Linked DNA regions of Homo sapiens. The protein of the gene in region 1 interacts with the protein of each later gene in a pairwise test. Each region holds a gene or a part of one and is shown in the gene's direction. Other genes may lie near its edges.

The links. Proteins that work in one complex are often made in the same cells at the same time.
Region 2: the proteins of ELOF1 (region 1) and C5orf22 interact in binary tests that used the Homo sapiens proteins (3 or more experiments, as listed by UniProt).

The regions. Positions count from the first base shown.
Region 1 is NC_000019.10:11,550,487-11,556,499, reverse strand, and holds the end of ELOF1 (transcription elongation factor 1 homolog), read left to right. Parts: intron 1-924; exon of another isoform or gene 925-1,155; intron 1,156-1,246; exon of another isoform or gene 1,247-1,326; intron 1,327-2,134; 5' UTR 2,135-2,152; coding exon 2,153-2,268; intron 2,269-2,418; coding exon 2,419-2,489; intron 2,490-2,689; coding exon 2,690-2,754; 3' UTR 2,755-3,454; downstream 3,455-6,013. UniProt on the Homo sapiens protein: Factor involved in transcription-coupled nucleotide excision repair (TC-NER), a mechanism that rapidly removes RNA polymerase II-blocking lesions from the transcribed strand of active genes.
Region 2 is NC_000005.10:31,548,137-31,555,553, forward strand, and holds the end of C5orf22 (UPF0489 protein C5orf22), read left to right. Parts: intron 1-353; coding exon of another isoform or gene 354-551; intron 552-3,156; coding exon 3,157-3,296; intron 3,297-4,636; coding exon 4,637-4,766; 3' UTR 4,767-6,917; downstream 6,918-7,417.

The DNA.
Region 1 (6,013 bases):
GTGAAACCCCATCTCTACTAAAAATACAAAAAATTAGCCACGCGTGGTAGTGCATGCCTGTACTCCCAGCTACTCGGGAGGCTGAGGCAGGAGAATCATTTGAAGCCGGGAGGTGGAGGTTGCAGTGGGTCGAGATCATGCCACTGCACTCCAGCCTGGGCGGCAGAGCAAGACTCCATCTCAAAAAAAAAAGAAAGAGTTGGGGGTATTACATAGGAAGTGATCAGCAGATAATGAATGAAACTCCACTGTTTATTCTGGAAGACACTGGCAGGCTGCTGACCTCCCCGTCACAGTGGAACGATGCTAGAACCAGCAGTCGTGTGTGTGTGTGTTGGAGGAGGCGCCATAGGAGGCTCAGGGATGGCAAACACAGTGCCCTGAGCACCGTGCCTCGCAGGGGAGTTGGGCTCAGTGGTAACTGCTGCCGTTTCCCCACCCACCTGCCTCCTGGACATCTGTTCCTAGATATCCCTCTGCCACCCAACCCCATCATTTTCTCCAAAACCCTGTCCTTCCTATGTGTTAGACATCAGAGAATGATGCCACCTTGTCCCTCTAGCCACTATGTCCCCGCCACAACCTTGGGAGTCATCCTGGACTTTCCTTCTCTCGTCACACTCACTCACTCTGCCGCCATGTCTCCTCTGTCTCTCTCACCCTCTGCCATCTCTACCCCAACAGCCCTGTCCTGGCTGTGACTTTGTCTTCATCCAGATTATGGCTCACACCGCAGTTCCTCAAAAGCACAGGGTGACTTTGTCCTTTCACTCCTTGTAGCTCCCAGGATCCATCCAAACACCCAGAACCCTCCCACCTGTCCCTCCTCTCTCCCTCACCTGCCAGGGGACGGACAGCTGCCCTGAGCCTTCACACAGTGTTCCTCTACTCAGAAGTGCCTGTCCCCACTTCTCTGCCCTGCAGTCTGTCATCTGGATCGAGGCCATCAGATAACCTGAGTGTCACTCCTCCTGGATGGTACTTACATGTCCTTTGCCAAGAGGAGCAGCCAGAATAAAATCACCAGTTCCTAGGCTCTTAGGCTCCACCCGGCCCTGAACAGCTGGCTTGTCTTGGAGTCTCTTGTGCCACCCTCCCCAGGAACAGTGGCTTCCTTGTATTGGCGCCAGCGATGATGGGCCAGCTCTGTGCTAAGTACTTAACTTACCATTCCTGGTGTCAGCCCCACAAGTCTCCTCTGAGATAGCAACCTTATTTCGACTTTTTTTTTTTTTTTTTTTTTGAGACGGAGTCTTGCTCTGTTGCCCAGGCTGGAGTGCAATGGTGCGATCTCGGCTCACTGCAGTCTCCGCCTCTTGGGTTCAGGTGAGTCTCCTGCCTCAGCCTCCTGAGTAGCTGGGGTTACGGGTGCCTGCCACTATGGCCAGCTAATTTTTGTATTTTTAGTAGAGATGGGGTTTCACCGTGTTGGTCAGGCTGGTCTCGAACTCCTGACCTCGTGATCCGCCCGCCTCAGCCTCCCAAAGTCCTGGGATTACAAGTGTGAGCCACCACACCTGGCCTTTTTTTTTTCTTTTTTTTTTTTTATGCAGGGTTTCATCCTGTTGCCTAGGCTGGAGTGCAGTGCCTGGATCATAACTCTGGATCATCACTGAAACCTGAAACTCCTGGGCTCAAGCGATCCTCCCATCTCAGCCTCCCAAGTAGCTGGGACTACAGGCCTGCACCACCATGCCTGGCTAATTTTTAATTTTTTTTTTTTAGAGATGAGGCCTCACTATGTTGCCCAGGCTGGTATCCAGGTCCTGGCATCAAGTAATCCTCTCACCTTAGCTTCCCAAAGTGCTGGCTGGGATCACAGGTGTGAGCCACCATGCCTGGCCTTGTCTCTGTTTTATAGACGAGGAAACTGTGGCACAAAGAGCTTAAATAACCTGCCCAGGTCACGCAGTAAGTGAGAGAGATGGGGTTAGAGCCTCGTCTCACCCCTTCCATCCAGAGTGGGACAGGGAATTGTCCTCCTGCATCAGGACTGAGGGCCTCGTCCCTCAAGGGCAGAGGCCCCGGGACCACGGTGCAAGTCCCAGACCCTCTTTCCGGCCTGCTTTCTAGAGCATTGAGCTGGGGCGCTGCGTGGTTTCCTCAAACCACTGACATCTGCCACTCCCCACAGGCTCATCCACCTGCAGACATGGGGCGCAGAAAGTCAAAACGAAAGCCGCCTCCCAAGAAGAAGATGACAGGCACCCTCGAGACCCAGTTCACCTGCCCCTTCTGCAACCACGAGAAATCCTGTGATGTGAAAATGTGAGTGGGGAACAGGGCAAGGGATCCAGCCTCCCCACTGCCTCTTCCCCGCTGTTCTCCATCCTGCCCCTTGCCTCCCTTGGTGAAGGCGTCATCACCCACAGGCCCAGGACGCATTGCTCACCAGTCCCTTCTCTTGGTCTGTTTCAGGGACCGTGCCCGCAACACCGGAGTCATCTCTTGTACCGTGTGCCTAGAGGAATTCCAGACGCCCATAACGTGTATCCTTGGAAACCTGGGCTTTTTCCAGAGGGTGGGGAGGGGGCTGGAGTCCGGACCCTGCTCATCTGGCCCACTGTGTGCCCTGGTGCAGGGCCAAAGCCGTCCAGAGGAACAGGTGCCACCTAGTGATTTCTGTGGGGTGAGAAGATGCAGGGCAGGGTTCCAATGCCAATGATCGCCCTTGACCTAAGTGGCCCAGATCTGTCAGAACCCGTGGATGTGTACAGTGATTGGATAGACGCCTGCGAGGCGGCCAATCAGTAGCGACACAGAGGACCCGCCCCCTGAGCAGCCCCGCGTACTGTGGATCCAGCTGTTCGGTTCTGGTCCAGAGACATTCCAGGGGTCCAGGGTGTGGGTCCTGGGCTGTCACAGCCGTGTGTGTGTGTGTGTGTGTGTGTGTGTGTGTGTGTGTGTGTGTGTGTGTAGTGGGTGTGCGTGTGGGTGTGGGTGTGAGTGAGTGTGGGTGTGTGTGGCTGCACGTGTCACTGGGGTGGCCGTGAGTGTGTGCTCACAGGTACGCGGTGGTGTCGGGTTCCTGGGCCTGAGGGGCCTGAACTGATCTCACTTGGCTCCGAAAGCCTTTGCTGTGTTCCCTGCAGCCCCTGGCCCCCCAGCCTTGGGGCTCTGGCTCCCCCCGGCGGAATTGGGGGACTGTTTCCTGACATCCTGGACAAGGGAAGCCCACTAGAGGCTGGAACAGGACCTCTCCAGCCTCCTCACCAGCACCGTGCCCATCTCAACTGGACTTCCCGCTCTCCTTCTCCACCTTCTAGTGCCCGTGGCCGGGGATTCAAAGCCGCCGTTCCCCAGGTCCCTGGGCTGGGCCCTGACAGGGAGCCGCCCCCCTCCCCATGGTAACCAGGAAGCCCGTTTCATGTTCAGTTGCTTTTGTAGAGGAAGCAAGGGCTGGGATGGGGACAGCTGTCAATCACAAGCCCTTAAATAAAGCAGCCAGCGCACATCCCTTGCTGTCCGTGATGTCTTGGGTTCTGCGTCTGCCTGGTCACCAGAAGAAGGAGAGGGGACCTGAGGCTCTGACGTTCGGGAGGTGGCCTGGTGGCCCATGTGACCAGCCCTTCAAACCACCCAGCGTTTTATTCAGTCAGTAAGCATTCAGGGTGGTGGAGCAGGCAGACATCTGGCCAGGTGTTTACAGCAGTCACAATAGGAAATGGGGGAGGTGAGACAGAACAGGTGGTCAGAGGAGGCTTCTGGGAGGGGCAGGCTGAGACAGTGACACCGTAGGGCCACCTCTAGCCAGACGCTGACCTCTGGCCTTCCTGCGTCGCCCCAGTGTCCTGACAGCCACTTTGTGGGGCAGGTGCCAAGCTAACCCCAAGTTCAAAGATGAGGAAACAGAGGCTAGAGGTGAAGGAGGTCACTGGCCCAAGACCCTACAGCCAGAAAGTGGCACAGGGGGGATTTGAACCCAGGAAACGAGGCTCCACAGCTTACAGTCTGACTTCTTGTGAGCCCAGAGTCCAGGCTGAGGGAACAGCTTACAGGCCGTTCTGGAGGTAGTGAGTGGAAGAGGGACACGGGAGGGAAACATGAAAGGGGCCTTTATTCAAGGGTGGTGAGGACTCTCAGAAGGCTGGTGTTGGGGCGGGATGTGTGTGGCCGATGGGGAGCACCTGAGGGCTGATGTCCCCTTAGCTGGTCGCACCGGTGACAAGGACCACAACACCCAGCAACCTGGGGCAGTGCCAGACCCTCCACCTGGCCTCATGAGCCCGGGTGGCAGGTGACCTGTGCTTCAGAGTCCTCGTTGCTACAGTGCAGGGGATGAAAGCACCTTCTTCCCGGAGCCATGCTGAGGATGGAAGTGCCAGGCATGGTTTGAGCGGCTCTGGGGCCCACCCAGGGCACTGACGGATGTGAACAGCGGGGGGAGACATTGAGCTGGCCCGGAAGCCCTGGCTGCCAGACTGGGCTGCTGGGTCTGGCCTGTGCACCCCCTCAGGCCCACTCTGCCATGACATGTCTTCCCTGGTTATCCCGCCACCTCCAAGATCCCAGGTAAGGTCTGCTAGCCCTGGCAGGAGCCGGCACACATGCGCAGAGTGGTGGACAGGCACCTAGGTTTAGGGTGATGGCCCTCTGGGATCCAGCAAAAAGGGGGCTCATTCCTCTGGCACCCGAGGCCCTTCCTGCCGCCCGCCCACCCCAGCCTCACAGGCTAAGTGCTAATATGGTGCTGTTTTCCCGAGGAGGCAGGGCCCTGGGCCAGGCCCGGATCCTCCTCAGCATAGCTTCCCCGCGCCGGCCCAGGGGGAGCAGGACTTGCGGTAGCCAGGCCAAAAGCGCCTGGAATCCGGTTTACGAGGCCCCAGGGGCTGCGTGCGTCTGTGCGCGGGTCTTCTGGTGTCTGCCTCCGCAGGTCTCCACGTTCCAGCCTCAACTCCTGCCCTCCCTGGGGAGAAGACAGCTCCGTGCCGCGCTCCTCGCTTCTCTGCCTCCTCTCCTCCTTGGAATCCTGATGGTTGGGGACCTCTCCCTCCTCCCGGGGATAACAGGGTCCCCTCTGAAATGTGAGGAGGTTGAGGCCCTGGACACAGCCTTTTAGAGTCCCGGGTTGGCAGGCTCAGCCTTAAGACGGCTGAGAGCGGGCGGGGCGCACAGAATTAACCGTGCCCTATGGTGCCCTGTGCCAGTCAGTAAAGGGCCATTGCCTTGGCTCAGAAGTGCCCCTCTCCCTGTCCCCTTTCCCCTCCCCACAGTCTGGGGCTAAAGGGTTCACCCTGCCCACAGGGCCCACCAGGACCCCTACTTGTCATCCTTTCTCTATTGATGCCTGGTCTTTACCAGCGATTAAACATGTAGAACATCACCCCATCTGGGGGTGTCATTTCATGACCACAAGAGGCTTACTGTCCCCATTATTTTGATGGGAAAACAGGTCTAGGGAGGGAAAGTGATTGCCCGAGGTCATCCAGGCAGCTGCTCTGTGATTCACATGCCATTTAGCCTGTCCCAGTACTCAGGCTCTTTGTCACCACCATCCACAAGCCTCTGGGAGAGCAGTGTGGGTCGTGTGTGTGTGTGTGTGTGTGTGTGTGTGTGTGTGTGCACGCGCGCGCGCATTGGCTCTCTGGCTGTGCCTTTTTTTTTTTTTTTTTTTTTTGAGATGGAGTCTTGCTCTGTTGCCCAGGCTGGAATGCAGTGGCGCCATCTCAGCTCACTACAGCCTAGATCTCCAGGGCTCAAGTGATTCTCCTACCTCAGCCTCCCAAGTAGCCGGGACTACAGGCATGCGCCACCACACCCTGCTAATTTTTGTATTTTTAGTAGAAACAAGGTTTCACCATGTTGGCCAGTCTGGTCTCGAACTCCTGACCTCAAGTGATCCTCCCATCTCAGCCTCCCAAAGTGCTGGGATTACCGGCATGAGCCACTGTGCCCGGCTGGCTATGCCTTTTTTACATGTCGTAGGGAGTGTGTACTGCCTGTGTGTGCATATCTGTGTGTGAAAGGGGGGAGTGTGTGTGTGTGTGTGGACTTTGCATGTGAGTGTGATGGG
Region 2 (7,417 bases), on another chromosome or scaffold:
ACTAAAAATACAAAACTTAGCTGGGTGTGGCAGTGCACACCTGTAATCCTAGCTACTCAGGAGGTTAAGGCAGAGAATCGCTTGAACCTGAGAGGCAAAGGCTGCAGTGAGCCGAGATGGTACCACTGCACTCCAGCTTGGGTGACAGAGCGAGACTCCATTTCAAAAAAAAAAAAAACTGGATGCCTTTAACAGCACCCATGTCACCTCTTGAATGCTTTGCTGCTTGGCAGTTTCTTCCACCAGATATGCTAAATCATCTCTCAACTTCAAAGTTCCACACATCTCTAGGGCAGGGGCAAAATGCCACCAGTCTCTTTGCTAAAATATAACAAGAGTCACCTTTGTTCCAGTTCCCAGCAAGTTCTTCATCTCCATCTGAGACCACCTCAGCCTGGATTTCATTGTCCATGTCATTATCAGCATTTTGGTCCAAGCCATTCAACAAGTCTCTAGGAAGTTCCAAACTGTCCAACATTTCCCTGCCTTCTTCTGAGCCCTCCAAACTGTTCCAACCTCTGCCAGTTCCAAAGTTGCTTCCACATTTTCAGGTATCTTTTCAACAGTGCTCCACTCTACTGGTACCAATTTACTGTATTAGTCTGTTTTCACGCTGCTGATAAAGACATACCCAAGACTGGGCAATTTACAAAAGAAAGAGATTTAATGGACTTAGTGTTCCACATGATTGGAGAGGCCTCACAATCATGGCAGAAGGTGAAAGGCACATCTCACATGGCAGCAGACAAGAAGAGAGAGCTTGTGCAGCGAGACTTGTGTTTTTAAAACCATCAGATCTCCAGCCGGGCATAGTGGCTCACATCTGTAATCCCAGCATTTTGGGAGGCCGAAGCGAGCAGATCACCTGAGATCGGGAGTTCGAGACCAGCCTGACCAGCATGGAGAAACCCCATCTCTATGAAAAACACAAAATTAGCCGGGCGTGGTGGCGCATCCCTGTAATCCCAGCTACTCGGGAGGCTGAGGCAAGAGAATCGCTTGAACCCAGGAGGTGGAGTTTGCAGTGAGCCAAGATCATGCCATTGTACTCCAGCCTGGGCAAAAAGAGTGAAACTCTGTCTCAAAAAAAGTAAATAAATAAAACTGTCAGATCTCCTGATACTCATTCGCTATCATGAGAACAGTGCAGGAAAGACCCACCCCCACAGTCACCTCCCACCAGGTTTCTCCCATGACACATGGAAATTGTGGGAGTTACAATTCAAGGTGAGATTTGGGTGGAGATACAGCCAAACCATATAATGAGCAAAGCAAAAGAATATTTTGGTGAAACCTAAGCAAATCCAAGACTTAAACTTTTTTGTTTAACTTTTTTTTTTTTCCCCTGGGAGCATATATTCAAATTGCCCTGAATAAACACTTCCAAGACTTACACTTTTTAAAAATGGTAATTAAGAAGATCGTTATAAGATACTTAAGGTTTGAAAATGTTTTGAGGCCAGGAGCAGTGGCTCATACCTGTAATCCCAGCACTTTGGGAGGCCAAGGCAGGTAAATCGCTTGAGCCCAGGAATTTGAGACCAGCCTGGGCAACATGGCAAAACCCCATCTCTACAAAAAATACAAAAATTAGCCAGGTGTGGTGGTGCACACCTGTAGTCCCAGCTACTTGAGAGGCTGAGGCAGGAGGATTGCTTGAGCCTGGGTGGTTACAATGAGTTGAGATCCTGCCATTGGACTCCAGCCTGGGCAACAGAGTGAGACTTTGTGTCAAATTTAAAAAGAGAAAGAAAATGCTTTGAATTCATACAATATTATCAAATATGTCTGCAGGCAGGTCTGCTTTAATCATTACATTGCATCTGGGTTTTTTTCGTTGGGTGGGTTTGATGTTTTTTGGGGGGCAGGGAATGGCTAGGGCTCAGTCACAGATTATGTAATCCATTATGATATGCCCTACAGCTGCAGAGATAGAACGCTAAATAGTTTTATCATTTTGGCAAAATGAACATCCAGAATTCATCCTTTTATCACACTGACTGATCATTGCCAGTTAAATTGTTGATGTGTATCCAAAGCCTCCAATAAAATATTTGATTAGTGTGTTTTTTCATACTTTGCACTTGCGTACTCTAGGCAAAACTATGACATAGTTAAGTTCCAGTTTTCAAAACATTAAAGTTAAGGTTGCAGAATGGTAGCATGTGAGCCACTTCTAACTTTCAGGCAAGTTTAGTGTAGTGCTAAGACTAGAACATATTCCATTCAAATTTAAAACACATAGGTAGATAGCAGTAGCTTATGGTTATACATAAAGGATACACAAGAAAACAGTTTGGTTAAATAAGGTAGGATAAATATTTTCTCTTGTATCCTCTCAAAGCTTTGAATGTAGTACTAGGTGCACATATTAATATTTAAAAAGTAAGTAAAATAATGTGTTAAAAATGAGATAAGAATATGTACAATTTTTTTTTTTCTTTTTGAGACGGAGTTTCGCTCTTGTTGCCCAGGCTGGAGTGCAATGGCACGATCTTGGCTCACTGTAACCTCTGCCTCCCGTGTTCAAGTGATTCTCCTGCCTTAGCAGGAGAAGCTGGGATTATAGGCATGTGCCACCACGCCCGGCTAATTTTGTATTTTTAGTAGAGACGGGGTTTCTCCATGTTGGTCAGGCTGGTCTCCAACTCCCGACCTCAGGTGATCCGCCTGTCTCAGCCTCCCAAAGTGCTGGGATTACAGGCATGAGCTACCACGCCTGGCCTCAACTTTTTAGAATCTAGATGAAATGGATAATTTGATAGAAAATGTGAATTACCAAAATTGACCCAAGCCCAATGAAGTAGTTAAAGAATTATTCTAAAAAGAGGCATCTGGCCCAGACAGGCATATAGGCGAGTTCTACCAACACTTCAGAGAGCAGATAACTTTTATGACATAGAAACTGTTAAGGAAAAAATAATCCCAATGCATAAAAATATTAAAAATTAAAAGTTTTTCATATTTAAGGTGTTGGATATCCCAGTTACCCTGATTTGATCTTTATATGCTATTATGAATCACATGTACCCTGAAAATATGCACATCTTTTATGTATCAATAAAAGTAAAGATTTGTCAATAAGGCCATTAATGATTAAAGAAGCTTATAAAAACAACTGTCATACAGTGTAATTTTTAATTGTCTTATTTTCAGGTTCACCAGGCTGGTTTAACCTGCGATTATTCAGAACTTCCTCACCATATCAGCACAGAACAAGAAATAGAGTGTCTTATTCAATCTGTGCATTATTTGCTGAAAAATTTACCAAATCCTACTCTTGTGACAATTGCAAGGTAAGTGTGTTCAGCAGAATAATGGCAAATCAGAGATGTGCACATCCTAATCTCTGGAACCTGTGAATATGTTACATTATATGGCAAAAGGAAATTCGCAGTGTGATTAACTCAAGGATTTTGAGATGAGATTATCCTGGATTTATCAGGTGGGCCCAGTGTAATCACAAGGGTCATTAGAAGAGAAAGGCAGGAGGGTCAGAATCAGAGAGAGTGATTCGAAAATTCTACACTTCGGGCTTTGAAGGTGGAGGCCACAAGCTAAGGAACACAGGCAGCCTTTAGAAGCTAGAAAAGGCCAGGGGACAGATTATCCCTGGGATCTTACAAAAAGAATGCAGCCCTGTCAGCACCTTTATTTTAGGACTTCTGACCTCCAAAACTATATAATAAATTAGTGTTGCTTTAAGCTACTAAGTTTGTGGTGATTTTTTATAGCAGCAGTAGGAAACTAATACAATCTCTGTAGGTAAATAACCTGGTCACTAGAGCGTAAAATGAGTTTATCAGTGGTCTTACAGATTATCTCTTTAGGTTTGAAATACTTGTACTAAGGAGTAGGCCAGATAACTAATTCCAGTTCTTCTATAAAGATTTCTGTGCTGCTCTTCTCACTCTGTCCTCTAGAAGGCTTTATTCACCCTTATCCGGAACCAGGAGACACTGGTTAATCCAGTTGTAACTGGCAGCAGCATTGTAACTGCCCAGTGCAACTCAGGTTGCAGTTGGTAAGTTCTGGAAAGACTCCCAAAATACAGATATCTGCCCCAACCTACTTTGCTCTTTTCTGCTTCCTACTGCCTAGGAAAGTAAATCCAACACCAGCACATCGCCACATTTCATTTTGGACCAAGCCATGGATCCTTTATAATTTTGTAGTTAACAAATCATTTTTAGAAATAGGATCCTTTTATCAGTTGGAAAACCTCGACCCTCATCATTTCTAGCCCTAGCACACACATAATAAAAGATGTTCCATCGCTAAGATAATAAGCCCCTGTATTCCCAAGCAACATCTCACTTTCAGGCAAACAATGGTCTAGCAATCAAGCATTAAGGCACACACCGCATGTCACCTTGCACAGGTTAATCTCTTTCAGATTTCTTTAAAGGGATAGTAATTGTGCCTATTTCATAGAGTTGCTGTGAAAATTAAAGAACATAATTTATGTAAGGTGACTAACATGGGGTAAACCTTCACTAGCTTTCAATTGATATTAATCCAAAGTTCAGCACACCTTAATTTCTGTTTTACATTGAAATGAACACATGCAGCTTTTCCTCACAGTATGATTTTATCCTATGTGTATTTTTCTTCTTTCTCTTTCTGTTGGTTCTAGGTCAAGTCTGGATGATTACTGTCCTTCTGACCAAGTTGACACTATTCAAGAAAAGGTCCTCAATATGCTACGTGCCCTCTATGGAAATCTAGACCTCCAAGTGTATGCAGCAGAGTCTCCTCCATCTTGAAACAAACAAAACATTAGGCTCCTGTTGTATCTTGGTTTAGTAACAGGCCCTTAATTAACTTATTTGTACATGAGTCTTCCAGAGAACACTGTTTTATATTAACTTTCAGTTGAAATCTTTCAGATATTTTGAATCTCTGAACAACCATTGTCAGTTGTGAATGATGGTAAATTTTTTGGCATCAAGTCTCATAACCCCAACTGATAGAACTGTTGCTTATCTGTCTTCCTTAAGTATTTTTTAGGGTTTTGTTTTTTTTTTTGTTTGTTTGTTTGTTTGTCTTCACTTTTCCCCCAGGTCTGTTGAGCTGTATGAGATTCATTCATACTTCATTTATTCATTCAACTAATATTTGTTGAACACTTACATGTACCAGACATTATTAAGTGCTGGGTATATGGTAATGAACAGAATAGACAAGGCCCCTGCCCTTTTAGGGGAGACAGATGAGAAGTAAATTACGGGTTATGAGAAATGTTATGAAGGAAAGGACAACAACAGACATGTCTTAGTACTTAGGGTATCATGGCTTTATAGGAAAGTAACATTCTCTATCTTTTTTTTTTTTTTTAATTTTATAAAAATAGAGATGGGGTCTCACCATGTTACCCAGGCTGGTCTCAAACTCCTGGGCACAAGCAATCCACCTGCCTTCGCCTCCCGAAGTGCTGGGATTACAGATGTAAGTCACTACCCCAGCCAGAAACTAACATTCTCAAAAGCTACTACCAAAAAAACCCCACAAATTTGCCAATCCATGAAAGTATCATAGGAAGTCTACCTTTCCAAGGAATTTGGCATTGTGGCCCTGCTCTTGCCAAATGCTCTCCAGCATTGTTGGTATCAAGGTGGTCTGGTTGAGTAAACTTGACCAAACAAAAATTAACTGTTTTTTGCTTTTCTGTTTTTGTTTTGCTGATCAAAAAAGCCCTTCAGGGTCTCTTGTGCATCCAGGAGGTCATTGTAGATATCAATAATATAGTGCCTAAGTGCCACTTTATTGCCAAGTCTAGATTGATACTTTTTTCAGATAAACCAGCTTTTTATGTAAAGAGTAAGGGAAAAAGTTAAATCTTTAATTCTGACCTGCCATAAATACCCAAAGATATAAACTGTCTTCCACCACCCCCCTCATAACTAAGACATCCTTCCTGAGTCACTCTTAATCATGAAACTTGATTTTCTCAATTGGCCAGTCTTCTGATCTTTAGTATCTCTTTAGTTCAGTAATTTTTACCTACCTACTTGATTTATTTTCCTTTAAAAGGTGAAATGACATTTAAAGAAAAACAAACACCCATCATTCCTCAGTCCCAACACAGCAGTTCTTTTCACTCTTGCTTGTAACTTTCAGGCCTTACCCACATGTGTTCCTATAGAGTTGCATGTAGCTAAAATTATAGTGTGCTGCCTAACTTTGTGCTAATAACGAAGGACACACATTATCATTGCCTCACAGTGGATGGCACCTGACCCCATTTTTCCAAGGATTCTATTTTCCAGTGAATTTTTGTCACCGAGTTAATTTCCCAAGTCTGATAGCATGAATGCTTATTTGTGCTGTGAAAAGCAGAGCAGCCTGACTCAGCTTTCCATTTTCATAGGATAATATGTGCCAAAAAAGGTTTATTTTCTTGGTAAAATCAGAATTGTAGAATTGTGCTATTTTTAATTTTTAAAATTTTTGGTTAGAGCTTATAGACATTACTTTTATGATTATTTTGCGTGCTAAATAAGTTAAAGGGTATGTTTTGAACTATAGCACTAATTAATGTGTGTGATCCTAGTATGTTGATAGCTTTGATTTTGTGAGTGGTTTACTAGTCATTTATTATGATTCCCATGAACTCTGATATGATTCATTGTGGTTTTAACTCAGGTTGAATAAAAGCATCCATTTCTTTTATAGGAAGGTTTGTTTAATTCTCATGTTCTGTGATCATCTCTTTGAGAATAAAATTCAGTCCCTAATAGTTGAAAAGAATCAACTTAGTAAATTATGTCTTGCACATTCCAAATAGGAAGGTATTTACTTTATCAAGATGTGTTTCATTTGTGTTCTGAGTACCAGTGAGGGGATACCGTGGTACAGTGTTTTGAATTGTGTACTAATATCATTAAAGCATGGGATTTTAGTGGCTTTTTAAAAAATGTGACTTAAGTGTAAGCGTAGACTTTAACTTAATAAGTTGTGTATTTCCTAGTATCTACGGGGAAAAAATTTAAGTCCAGCCTTTCATAATAACCTTTTGACTGTCAATTTTAGATCTCTTTAGAAACATTTCCTATAGTTGGCCATGCGCGGTGGCTCACGCCTGTAATCCCAGCACTTTGGGAGACCGAGGTGGGCGGATCACGAGGTTAGGAGATCGAGACCATACTGGTTAACACGGTGAAACCCCGTCTCCACCAAAAATACAAAAAAAAAAAAAATTCTCCAGGCGTGTAGGCAAGCACCCGTAGTCCCAGCTACTCCGGAGGCTGAGGCAGGAGAATGGCGGAAGCCCAGGAGGCGGAGCTTGCAGTGAGCCAAGATCGCACCACTGCACTCCAGCCTGGGCGACGGAGACAGACTCTGTCTCCAAAAAAAAAAAAGAAAGAAATATTTCCTATAGGCACGGGTCTTTATGTGTTCTAGCTTCTCAAGGAGC